3 separate regions of the Homo sapiens genome follow, and regions 1 and 3 are each linked to region 2. Evidence: fine-mapped expression QTL. A gene starts in region 2. Each other region holds a variant in brackets. All regions are shown on one strand. Distances are between the middles of the regions. Region 1 overlaps SHLD1 (shieldin complex subunit 1). Region 2 holds the start of SHLD1 (shieldin complex subunit 1). Region 3 overlaps SHLD1 (shieldin complex subunit 1).

Evidence for each region. PIP is the estimated chance that this variant, and not a neighbour inherited with it, causes the effect.
Region 1: its variant is fine-mapped to the expression of SHLD1 in whole blood (TOPMed, PIP above 0.99).
Region 3: its variant is fine-mapped to the expression of SHLD1 in whole blood (INTERVAL, PIP 0.97).

The regions. Positions count from the first base shown.
Region 1 is chr20:5,771,537-5,775,536 of GRCh38, reverse strand. SHLD1 (shieldin complex subunit 1) reads right to left here. Exons shown (of 3, transcript NM_152504.4): 2 at 2,494-2,675. The coding sequence starts at 2,671. Among named protein-coding and RNA genes, the nearest start is that of SHLD1, 23 kb to the right of the region's middle. The variant A/G (reference allele first, on the strand shown) is at 2,431.
Region 2 is chr20:5,748,443-5,752,779 of GRCh38, reverse strand. SHLD1 (shieldin complex subunit 1) reads right to left here and starts at 2,379. Exons shown (of 3, transcript NM_152504.4): 1 at 2,301-2,379. RefSeq lists an enhancer at 2,504-2,553.
Region 3 is chr20:5,780,275-5,784,274 of GRCh38, reverse strand. The region is part of intron 2 of SHLD1 (shieldin complex subunit 1); the gene reads right to left. Among named protein-coding and RNA genes, the nearest start is that of SHLD1, 32 kb to the right of the region's middle. The variant T/C (reference allele first, on the strand shown) is at 1,938.

The DNA of each region.
Region 1 (4,000 bases), 23 kb before region 2:
TACATAAATATTTCAACATGCTCCTTATTTTTAGAGCTGTCAACCAATTCCAATTAATAACAGTTGCTTTTCTACAGATTAGTCAACTAACAGGCAATAAAAAGTAAAAACTGAGTCCACACTGAATTCCCTAAGGGAATAGAGCCATTGCCTTGAAGTATTTCAACATGCTAATACTTCTAAAGTTCTGTTCAAACTGGATATGGTTGCTCACTCCCATTATCCCAGCACTTTGGGAGGCCATGGTGGGAGGATCACTTGAGGCCAAGAGTTCGAGACTTGCCTGGGCAACACAGCAAGACCCTGTCTCTACAAAAAAATTAAAAAAAAAAAAGCCATGTATGGTGATGTGAGCCTGTAATCCCAGCTACTTGGGAGGCTGAGGCAGGAGGATAGCTTCAGCTCAGGAGTTCAAGGCTGCAGTGAGCTATGATGGCACCACAGTATTCCAGCCTAGGCACAGAGCAAAACCCTGTCTCTAAATAAATAAATACATACACAAACAAAGTTCTGTTCAACTGCCTCCATTCACTCATTCTAAGAAATGCTGTTGCTACCCAGGGATGATGAACAAAATCAGTTTTAGGGATGGAAAGTCATGTAGAGGCAGCAGGATGGCAGGGAAAAAAGGGAAGGTTAAAGGAACTAAGATGTTAAGTCTAGAAAGGAAAAGGATAAAGAATTATCTAATTCTTGGTCAGTGATATGGTTTGGATTTGTGTCCCTGCCGAAATGTCATGTGGAATTGTCATCCCCAGTGTTGGAAGTGGGGCCTGGTGGGAGGTGATTGGTTCATGGGGCAGTTCCTCCTAATTGGTTTACAGCACCATCCCCTTGGTGCTGAGTTCCCATGAGATCTGGTTGTTTAAAAGTGTGTAGCACCTTCCCCCTCTCTTTCTTCCTCCTGCTTCAGCCATGTGAAGTGCCAGCTTCCCCTTTGCCTTCCGCCCTGATTGATGCCTAGCAGGTGCTTCTATGCTTCCCGTACAGCCTGCAGAACTGTGAGCCAATTAAACCTCTTTTCTCTATAAATTACCCAGTCTCAGGTATCTCTTTATAGCAGTGTGAGAATGAACTAACACAGTCAGGTACTAAATTAAACAGGAGACTTACTGATCCTGATTACTCTGTGTCCTGAAAATCAGCAGAGAATCCCAAACATATTTCTCCATAGAATTCTTGAAGGCAATGACAGTTACACATCCTACCTGTAGTCATCACTGAATTCATCATCATTAAAGCCTACATTTGCTTAGTACCCACAATGAGTTCTTTCTAAAAATATATATTTGGATTTGTTTTTTGTTGTTGTTTGTTTTTTGTTTTTTGTTTTGAGACAGAGTTTTGCTCTTTCGCTCAGACTGGAGTGAAGTGGCACGATCTCAGCTCACTGCAACCTCCACCTTCCGGGTTCAAGCGATTCTCCTGCTTCAGCCTCCCGAGTAGCTGGTATTACAGGCGCCCGCCACCACACCTGGCTAATTTTTGTATTTTTAGTAGAGACAGGGTTTCACCATGTTGGCCAGGCTGGTCTTGAACTCCTGACCTTAGGTGATCCACCCGCCTCGGCCTCCCAAAGTGTTAGGATTACAGGTGTGAGCTACCACACCCGGCCATTTGGATTTCTTAATATTAACGACAACAACATTGACTGAGCACCCATCGATGGCAGAAAAACCATGCTAAGTATCTTACAGGTTTACCTTAAGCTAAACCTGACTGGGTGGAGCAAGCATTCTGATCACCATTTTGTAGACGACTCTGGAGCTCAGAGGGGTTAAGGAACACGCCCCAAGTCACATAGCCAGCAAGTGGCAGAGCTGAACTTTAAATCCAGGTCTGTGTGATAAACCCAGGGGATTAACCAAAACTAACAAGAAATAAATGAATAAATAAATAAATCCAGGTCTGCGGGCCTCCAGACTCAGATCAGGTAATTAATATGAAAGAGAGGGCTTTACCACTAAAGACGGCCACTACCTACATCAGGGAATTATCATTAGTTTAAATAATAGATGTTTCGGCAATCTAGTCAGGAAACCTTGTAGAAAGGTTGTTACTTAAATCCACAGCATACTTCATACAAGGAATGCTAAAGTCTCTATTTTTATTACTCATCACACATAACAGGCCCACATTGCTATTTTCTGAAGTTTTAAAAGAACAAAACAAAAAAAAATTCCACTCTCTCTTTGTTGAACCAAATATTCCCCTGCTTCTGAATTCATTTTGAGGGAGATTAGAAAGAGACCTGAGATTAACAGCAACAATAACAAAAAGACATCCAGGAAACAGCTCCTTGTCATTGCTGTGCCAGGTAAGCTGTCCTTTGAAGTTCCTCCTGAAAGCTTTGCTTAGGTAAGATGTTTTTCTGCCTAAGACAATGAAGCATTCTCAGAGATCTGCTATTGGAAGAGAGAGAAACAAACT[A/G]TCACACACCCGTATTGCTGCTAGTTGTTTTTAAGTTAGTTTGTTTTAAACTCTGCTTATTACCTGGATCCACATCAGAAGAATAAGGAAAAGAATGGAATTCCAAAGAACTGAAAGCCTCGCTGTTGGCTTCTTGGCTGGGTCCCTGCAGGACGTAATCTCTTATGTCACACGCTGATGGCAGGTCCAAAGCACTGCTCTCCTCTGACAGGCTGCCTGAAGTGGCGTCCCTGGCTGCCATAGTCCTGCCATGGAAAAAAGAAAACAATTCAGTACAAAAGGCACCACATAGCAGGATCCTTCATTGGAGACAGAGCTTGAAGAATTTTATTTGTTTTTTATTTTTATTTTTATTTTTGTAGAGATCAGGTCTCACTAAGTTGCCCAGGCTGGTCTTGAACTCCTGGGCTCAAGCAATCCTCCCACCTCAGCCTCCCAAAGTGATGGGATTATAGGTGTGAGCCACCATACCCACCCAAAAAATTTTAAAGGTCAAACAACAGTGAAATCAGAATGATTTACAGTAGTCCCCCCTTATGTGCGATTTTGCTCTCTGCAGTTTCAGTTGATCTCACCCAACTGTGGTTCAAAAATATTACATGGAAAACTCCAGAAATAAACAATTCATAAATTTCAAATTGTGCACCATTCTGAGTATTGTAATGAAATCTCATGCTGTCCCACTCCATCCCACCTGGGACATTAATTACCCCTGTCCAGCGTATCTGAACTGTACATGCTACCTGCCCCTTAGTCATTCAGTAGCCTTTTCAGTTACCAGATGGACTGTTGTGGTATCACAGTGCTTGTGTTCAAGTAACCCTTATTTTACTTATTAATGGCCCCAAAACACAAGAGTAGTGATGCCAGCAAGTCAGATATGCCAAAGATAGGCCACAAAATACTTTCTTTAGGCAAAAAGGTAAAAGTTGGCCAGGCACACTGGCTCATACCTGTAATCCCAGCACTTTGGGAGGCTGAGGTGGGTGGATCACCTGAGGTCAGGAGTTCAAGACCAGCCTGGCCAACATGGTGAAACCCTGTCTCTACTACAAATACAAAAATTTAGCCAGGCTTGGTGGTGGGTGCCTGTAATCCCAGCTACTTGGGAGTCAGAGGCAAGAGAATCCCTTGAACTTGCGAAGCGGAGGTTGCAGTGAGCGGAGACCGTGCTATTGCACTCCAGCCTGGGCAACAAGAGCAAACCTCCATCTCAAAAAAAAAAAAAAAAAAAAAAAAAAAAGGTAAAAGTTCTCAACTCAATAAGCAAAGAAAAAAATCATATGCCTAGGCTACTAAGATCTACTGTAACAATGAATCTTCTATCCGTGAAATTGTGAAGAAGGAAAAAGAAATTCATGTTAGTCTTGCTGACACACCTCAAACTGCAAAAGTTATAGCCACACGGAGGTTGTAGTGAGCCGAGATTGCACCACTGCACTCCAGCCTGGGCTACAGAGCAAGACTCTGTCTCAAAAAAAAAAAAAAGTTATGGAGTTATGGCCACAGTACATAAGTGCTTAGTTAAGATGAAAAAGGCCTTACATTTGTGCGTGGAAGATATGAACAG
Region 2 (4,337 bases):
GTCAGGTGTGGTGGTGCACACCTGTAATCCCAGCTGCTCCAGAAGCTGAGACGGAGAACTGCTTGAACCTGGGAAGCAGAGGTTGCAGTGAGCCGAGATCGCACTACTGCACTCCAGTTTGGGTGACAGAACAAAGACTCTGCCTCAAAAAAAAAAAAAAAAAACCCCAAAATATATTTCTTTGACATATTTTAAAATGGCCCTACAAAGCTACAAAGCTGTCTTTTGTAACAGAAATTTGCATCTGTAGAGAATCTCCATTAATGCAGCCAGGATTTCCTTTTCTAGGCCTTTCCCAGATCCAGGAAAGATTAATTCTGACACCTAAATTTCCAAAAAGAGACATTTACCATCTATTCTCTCTTTTTTGTTTTTTTTTTTTTTGAGATGGAGTCTCACTCTGTCATCCAGGCTAGAGTGCAGTAGTGCGATCTCAGCTCACTGCAACCTTTGTCTCCTGGGTTCAAGCAATTCTTGTGTCTCAGCCTTCCAAGTAGCTGGGATTACAGGCGCACGCCACCGTGCCTGGCTAATTTTTTTATTTTTCGTAGAGATGGTGTTTCATCATGTTGGCCAGGCTGGTCTTGAACTCCTGACCTCAAGTGATCTGCCTGCCACGGCCTCACAAAGCGTTGAGATTACAGGTGTGAGCCATGGAGCCCAGCCCATCTCTAGTCATGGCACCTAGCCCATCTATTCTCTGAGGCTGCTACTCACACTTCATCTACGTAACAAGGACCTTGAACCACACAACTCCCTTATCTTAGTTCAAGCATTCTTTTCTACTGACTTCAAGTCTTTAGACAAAGCTTAACTCTCTCAAGCAACTGTCAGCTAAAGAATCCCTAAAATCCACCTAAGACTTCTAAGACCACCCTTGGACATATCCACCTTTTTGGGTCTAACCAATGTATACCTTCCATGTATTGATTTATGTCTTTGCCTGTTAACTCCTGTCTCCCTAAAATGTAAAAAAAACAAACTATAACCCAACTGCCTCGGGATCACTTACTAAAGACTTTTTGGGTTTGTGTTTTCTCTCTGGGCGATGGTCAATCATACTGGCTCAGAATAAACCGCTTTAAAATAGTTTACAGAGTTTTATTTATTTGCTAACAGTCTGACACATGATACAAAGACAAGCTTTGAAAATATTATACATAGTATAAGAAGATAGCCGGGCGTGGTGGCTCACACCTGTAATCTCAGCACTTTGAGAGGCTGAGGCAGGTTGATCAAGAGCTGAGGAGTTCAAGACCAGCCTGGCCAAGATGGTGAAACCTCGTCTCTACTAAAAATACAAAAATTAGTCGAACGTGGTGGCAGGCGCCTGTAGTCCCAGCTACTCGGGAGGCTCAGGCAGGAGACTAGCTTGAACCTGGGCAGCAGAGGTTGCAGTGAGCCAAGATCGTGCCACTATACTCCAGCCTGGGCTACAGAGTGAGAGTCATGAGACTCCGTTTAAAAAAAGAACAAAAGTCATGAAAGAAGCTAGTCACAAAAACATTGACATTATACTTAATGAAAGAAGCCAGCTGCACTGTATGATTTCATTTATATCAAACGTGCGAATTGGCAAGGCTATACAGACAGAAAGTATACTAGCAATTGTCTAGGACTTGAGGCGGAGTGGACGTGGTGAATGTAGAATGACTGCTACTGGAGGCAGGATTTTTCTTTGGAGTGATGAAAGTATTCTAAAATGAGATCACAGTAATAGATGCACAATTCTGTCAACAACAACAAAAAAACCCTTAATGTTACCCTTTATTATTTATTTTTGGGTACGTTGTCTTGCTCTGTCTTCCAGGCTGGAGTGCAGTGGCGCGATCTGGGCTCACTGCAGCCTGGAACTCCGGGGCACAAGCGATTCTCCCACCTCAGTCTCCTGAGCAGCTGGAACTACAGGCGAATGCCACTATGCTAGGCTTGATTTTTTTTTACGCTTTAAATGGGCAAATTTTACTTAGTAGGTGAATAGAAATTTCCCAAGAAAGCTGTTTTTTTGTTTGTTGGTTTTTTAGCAGAACCTCCTGAAGTGGCAGGTCACTGAAAAAATTTAAAAAAAAACAACAAAACCGAAGCTTATCCATACTCACTATCCACAAATTCCCAAAATTCCCCAAAGCACAGGCTGCAGACACCGTGTGTTGGGGCGGAAGGGGCGGGGAGCTAGCAGGAAATCCTGACATGCCTAGGAAAGCCTCCATAACTTCCTAATTGAGAGAGAACGATCAGATGCATTGCTGTGACCCCCGCCCCCACCACTCCAACCCCCCCCCATCCCATCCCGCGCTTACCTCTCCTCCAAAGCACTCCAGAAAACTGAGGAGAAAAGCCGCCAAGCCCCCCGACACACTCACCATCCGCAACCGGAACGCGGAAGCAATGGCGCCATCTTTTTTATGGGAAATGTGAGGTTCGAAGGAAGTCACCGGAGCCATCCTTACTGCGGGCAGTGAAGGGCAATGGAAGCCGGTCGCGGCCATGTTGACTGAGGCTTTTGGCCTGTCAATGAGGCTTGCCACATGTGGCTATTTTGGGCAATTTCCTGAGGAGGCTTGTCGATAAATGTGCTTGGTAAACCCTAAGGGAACAGAAAAAATATTCAAAAATTTAAATGTTGGCCGGGAGCGGTGGCTTACGCCTGTAGTCCCAGCACTTTGGGAGGCTGAGACGGATCACTTGAGGCCAGGAGTTTGAGACCAGCCTGGGCAACATAGGGAGACACTGTCTCTACAAAAAAAATTTTTTTTTAATTAGCGAGGCATGGTGGCACATGTCTGTAGGCCCAGGTAGTTGGGGGGCTGAGGTGGGAGAATTGCTTGAGCCTGAGAGGTCAAGGCTGCAGTTGGCCATGTTCTTGCCACTGCAGTCCAGCCTGGGCAACAGAGCTAGACCTTGCCTTTTAAAAAAAAAAATTCGTCTGGGCTCAGTGGCTCACGCCTGTAATCCCAGCACTTTGGTAGGCCGAGGCAGGAGGATCACCTGAGGTCGGGAGTTCGAGACCAGCCTTACCAACAGAGAAACCCTGTCTCTACTAAAAATACAAAATTAGCTGGGTGTGGTGGTGCAGCCTGTAATCGCAGCTACCCGGGAGACTAAGGCAGGAGAATCGCTTGAACCCAGAAGGTGGAGGTTGTGGTGAGCCAAGATCGTGCCATTGCACTCCAGCCTGGGCAACGAGAGCGAAACTCCGTCTCAAAAAAAAAAATAAATAAAATTCAATGTCTTGGAGAGGGTGGGGTGGCATGCCCCTGTAATCCCACTGCTTTGGGAGGCCAAGATGGGAGGATTACTTGAGGCAAGGAGTTCAAGACCCACCTGGGCAACACAGTGGAGACCTTGTCTCTACAAAATGGTTTTGTTTTTTTTTTTTTGAGACGGAGTCTCGCTCTGTTGCCCAGGCTGGAGTGCGGTGGCGCCATCTCGGCTCACTGCAAGCTCCGCCTCCCGGGTTCACGCCATTCTCCTGCCTCAGCCTCCCAAGTAGCTGGGACTACAGGCGCCCGCTACCACGCCCGGCTAATTTTTTGTATTTTTAGTAGAGACGGGGTTTCACCGTGTTAGCCAGGATGGTCTCGATCTCCTGGCCTCGTGATCCGCCTGCCTGGGCCTCCCAAAGTGCTGGGATTACAGGCGTGAGCCACCGTGCCCGGCCTACAAAATGGTTTTAATAAATAAATAAATAAACTTGAATGTCTACATTTTAAAAATATGAAAAGTAGAAATTAAAGATGAGGATGAAAATATTGTAATATTCTGATGCATGCAGATAACTACATAACTGCCACAACTGCAGGACCACAAAAAAGAGACTGTCTAAAGACAAAATTACAAAATTAAGATTTAGCTTAAAGATCTAATTGGCTTTTGTTTACAATTCTAGAATCAGGCAGCATCTCATTCTATAAGATTGAATGTTCCAATGAGCTGAGCAGACAAGGTTAGCTTCATAGGCAGAAAAGGGGCTAAAGAATGCAGAAAGAGATTTGAACAAAAAGCAAATTGATCGTCCTTTTTTTTTTCTTTTTTTTTTTGAGACAGTCTTACTCTGTCGTCCAGGCTGGAGTGTCCTGGTGCGATCTCAACTTCCATCTCCTGAGTTAAAGTGATTCTTGTGTGTCAGCCTCCCTAGTACCTGGATCACAGGCGTGCACCACCATGCCCGGCTAATTTTTGTATTTCTAGTAGAGACAGGGTTTTGCCATGTTGGCCAGACTAGTCTTGAACTCCTGATCTCAAGTGATTTTCCCGCCTGGGCCTCCCAAAGTGCTGTGATTACAGCCATGAGCCACCGCACCCGGCCCTGCAAATTGATCATTTCAAAGTTACTT
Region 3 (4,000 bases), 32 kb before region 2:
GAGTTGCCAGGTTACTACATGGCCTTGGGTGATTTTCTTCATTATCCTGGGATTCAACTTCCCCATGTGGAAAATGAGAGGATTAGCTGGGCTCTGTGGTTTTCTTTTTTCTTTTTTTTTTTTTTAAGACAGTCTCACTTTGTCGCCCAGGCTGGAGTGCCCGTGGCGCCATCTCGGCTCACTGCAACCTCCGCCTCCCGGGTTCAAGCAATTCTCCTGCCTCAGCCTCCTGAGTAGCTGGAATTACAGGCTCACACCACCAACCTGGCTAATTTTTGTATTTTTAGTAGAGACGGCGTTTTGCCATGTTGACCAGGCTGGTCTCAAACTCCTGGCTTCAAGTGATCCACCAGCCTCGGCCTCCCAAAGTGCTGGGATTACAGGCGTGAGCCACCGCACCCGGCCGCTTAGTGGTTTTCGAACTCCTCCTGGTTCTGGCACCCTTTCTTTGGATGAATGCCTGCCTGGATGCATAAGGTAGAGCATCCAGGGCCCCACAAGCTCATGACCCCACTCAATCTCAAACTTGTAGTTCCTAAAGAGCTGTGAGGAACCACCAGCTCGGAGACTGTAACCTTCTCTAACTCTGTGAGCCTCAGTCATATACACTTATGGTTTATCCTTCACGCCTCAGGCCATACAATTAAAATTCACTGCTGCCTTCTAACAGCAGCATGCAAAGAGCTCAAAATCCGATTCTGGAGCTGAAAATCCAGTCTAGATAGCTGAATCTGCATAACTCAATCTAGGAGGCTGGGCATGGTGGCTCTCGCCTATAATCCCAGCACTTTGGGAGGCCAAGGTAGGTGGATCAACTGAGGTCAGGGGTTTGAGACCAGCCTGGCCAACATGGTGAAACCTTGTCTCTACTAAAAATACAAAAATTAGCCGGGTGTGGTGGCGGGCTCCTGTAGTGCCAGCTACTCGGGAGGCTGAGGCAGGAGAATCCTTGAAACTGGGAGGCGGAGGTCGCAGTGAGCCGAGACCTTGCCACTGCACTCCAGCCTGGGTGATGGAGTGAGACTCTGTCTCAAAACAACAACAACAACAAAAACCCCAAATCTAGGAAGAGGCAACAAAAGCAGAGAAGCACTGCCACACAGAATACCCAAACCTTCCAAATAAAGCCCATCTACTTGGTATCTGATAAAATGTACCCAATTGTGTCCTCAGTTATTTCTCAGAGAATTGGTTCAATAACCATTGTTCCCTTCTTTCCTTTCCTCTCCATACTCTCTGTATCTCAGGTTTGGTCTAGTGACTGGGTATTAGCCACTAGGTTGGATATCACTTAATGCAACTATAAAATGTCTTTAGCATTTTATGTATATATCTAAAATATACCCTGACTCCTATTTTAAAACTACAACAACACATCAAGAATTTGACAACTAGTATATAAATTTTATTTTGAGTTTTTTTATCTAAGAGCTTATAATTCATTCCTTTTGGAAATAAAATTTTATAGAATTCCAAAGAAATATGAATTATAGAGAGGAAGACAACAAACTTTTTTTTACTCTTAAATACTAAATTCCTTGGATGAAATGCCTAAATACACAAGTTACAAAATGGGCTTTGAAGAGTGGGATGTTGACAGATTCCCAGAATAAGACTAAAGGTGCATTAAATCACTATTTACTTTAAACTTATAACTGCCTGCCAGCTATGGCCTTTAATCATCAAAGACTTATTGTGTTTAACATTCAATTTGCTGTCTACATGCAACCAATTTCCCCGACACTGCTCTTAGGCAGAAGTTCAAGTTTGAGGAAAGGGCTGATATTTCCTACATCTGTATTGTTAATGTCTAACAACGACTTCAGAGAAAACTCCTTGTCCTATATTAGAAAGTACCTTGGATGCTCTCCAGGACAAAGGTTCCAGAGGGTGCAGGTGAGATACGCCACATGAGCTACCCAGAGTTTATCAAGCTC[T/C]AGCAGTACATGTGGGACTGGGCCTTCGGGTGACCTTTGTGATCTTGCTTTTGAGAGGTTTAACCAAGATCATCTGTTTCTTAACTCCGCTCTTCCATTCTGTATACTCTGTGCTTCCCTTGAGCCAAGCAGCAAACGAGAAAGAAAACAAGTATCTAACAGACAGGGTGTTCAAGTCCAGCAGCAAGTCTGTACCTGGGACTAATTAATGGATTCAATTCAGCCATCTCTGGAGTGGACTGGAGTTGACCAGGGAGGAGGGGGCACATTCCAGAGAGGGGAACAATGCAGCTAAGACATTAACAGTTGGCTCAGCCTAAAAGCAAGCCCGACAGGACTGGCAGGCCTGTGTTAATGTGCAGTTGGACAGCAGCAGGGGCCTCTATTCAGCTCGTGTGCACCTGTACAGTCGTGCCGGTTGTTGAAATATTGCAATACTGCTGTATTGGTTATTAAATATTTTGAACAAATATTCCAGGCAGCAGATTACACAGAGTCCCGAAAACAAGGCAGAGGAGCTTTTTGATTGGAGCTGGAAGGAAAGAAGTAGTGTAAGATTGGCCGGGTGTGGTAGCTCACACCTGTAATCCGAACACTTCGGGAGGCCAAGGTGGACGGATGACTTGAGGTCAGGAGTTCAAGACCAGCCTGGCCAACATGGTGAAACCCTGTCTCTACTAAAAATACAAAAAAATAGCTGGGCAGGGTGGTGGGTGCCTGTAATCCCAGCTACTCAGGAGGCTGAGGCAGGAGAATCGCTTGAACCCAGGAGGCGGAGGTTGCAGGGAGCCGAGATTGCACCATTGCACTCCAGCCTGGACAACAGAGCGAGACTCAGTCTAAAGACAAAAGTAGTGTAATATGACATCTCAAAGGGACCTAAACAGAAGAATGTTATGGAAAAGGTGTTCCAGGAACACTCTATATTTTTCTTTCTTTAGAAAGAGGGTCTCACTCTGTCCCGCAGGCTAGAGTGCAGTGGTACAATCATAGCTCACTGTAGCCTCGAACTCCTGGGCTCAAGCAATCCTCCCACCTTGACCTCCCAAAGTGCTGGGATTATAGGCATGAGCCTCTGCACTCGCTCTCAGGAAGCCCTGTTTGGCAGTAGCAGGTCTTCTGCCATATCTCACTAGGAAGGGCTGAGGGGAGGATTTTATAATCCTGCACCTGCTTTAAGTGAAAAGTTGTTTATTTTACCATCATTTCATGAGGAGTGGCTGGGTGGGAACTTCAGGCCAGATGGACTGTGTCTTTATTAGACATATATAGCCTAGTTTTACCCATCTTTACATACTCATACTGGAATGACTAAGGCTTTTGAGGTTTTTCTAACACTCTCAGATTCTTATCAGCCCAGTAGTTTTCTGGAAAGTGCTCTTAAGTCTCATGTCCTTGCTACTAATTTGCTCCTCCAGAGTATGAACAGTGATGCGGCAGTTGGGCACATAGCAAAAGGACAGAGAAGCGTCCATCCAGTTTGGCTCCTAGGGAAGATCATTGGCATCTGAGTAAGGGCAGGCTTAGTCCAGAGGGGAATGGAGGTAGAGGCCATGTGCCTGGGAATGAGGAGCAATCCTGAGATGAAGAAGTGAGGAGGAAGGCAGGCAGCCCCTTCAAAAAGCCTGGCTGGGAAAAGCAGGGCAGGGATAGGCCCATGGTCAGGGGCAGCTGCAAGGTGAAATGGGGAATCCTTTACACAAGTTAAGCCTAAGCCTGGGCCCATGTTCTTGTAACTGGGTTTTGCAGCGGTCCTTGCTATATCCTAAATCTAAGGTCACCCTTCCTTGGCCTACTACTCTTCCAGGGGTTAGAACTGTGACACTGACTCCAACCTGGAAGCTGGGACCTTGCTACTCACTGAGAAGGCACCTGCACACTGCCTGCCACCTGCCTGGATTTCTGGGTATTCTCTCCAGCGTGCCTGTTGCTGGGCTGTGCTGTGCCACCAGAAGACTACGCCACGCCTCCACTGTGAACCCCAACCCCTTGCCAACTCTGTGTCTGGATTTTGACTGAAGAATTTGATAACAGATGATATGACTGAACTCTTACAGTCAAGC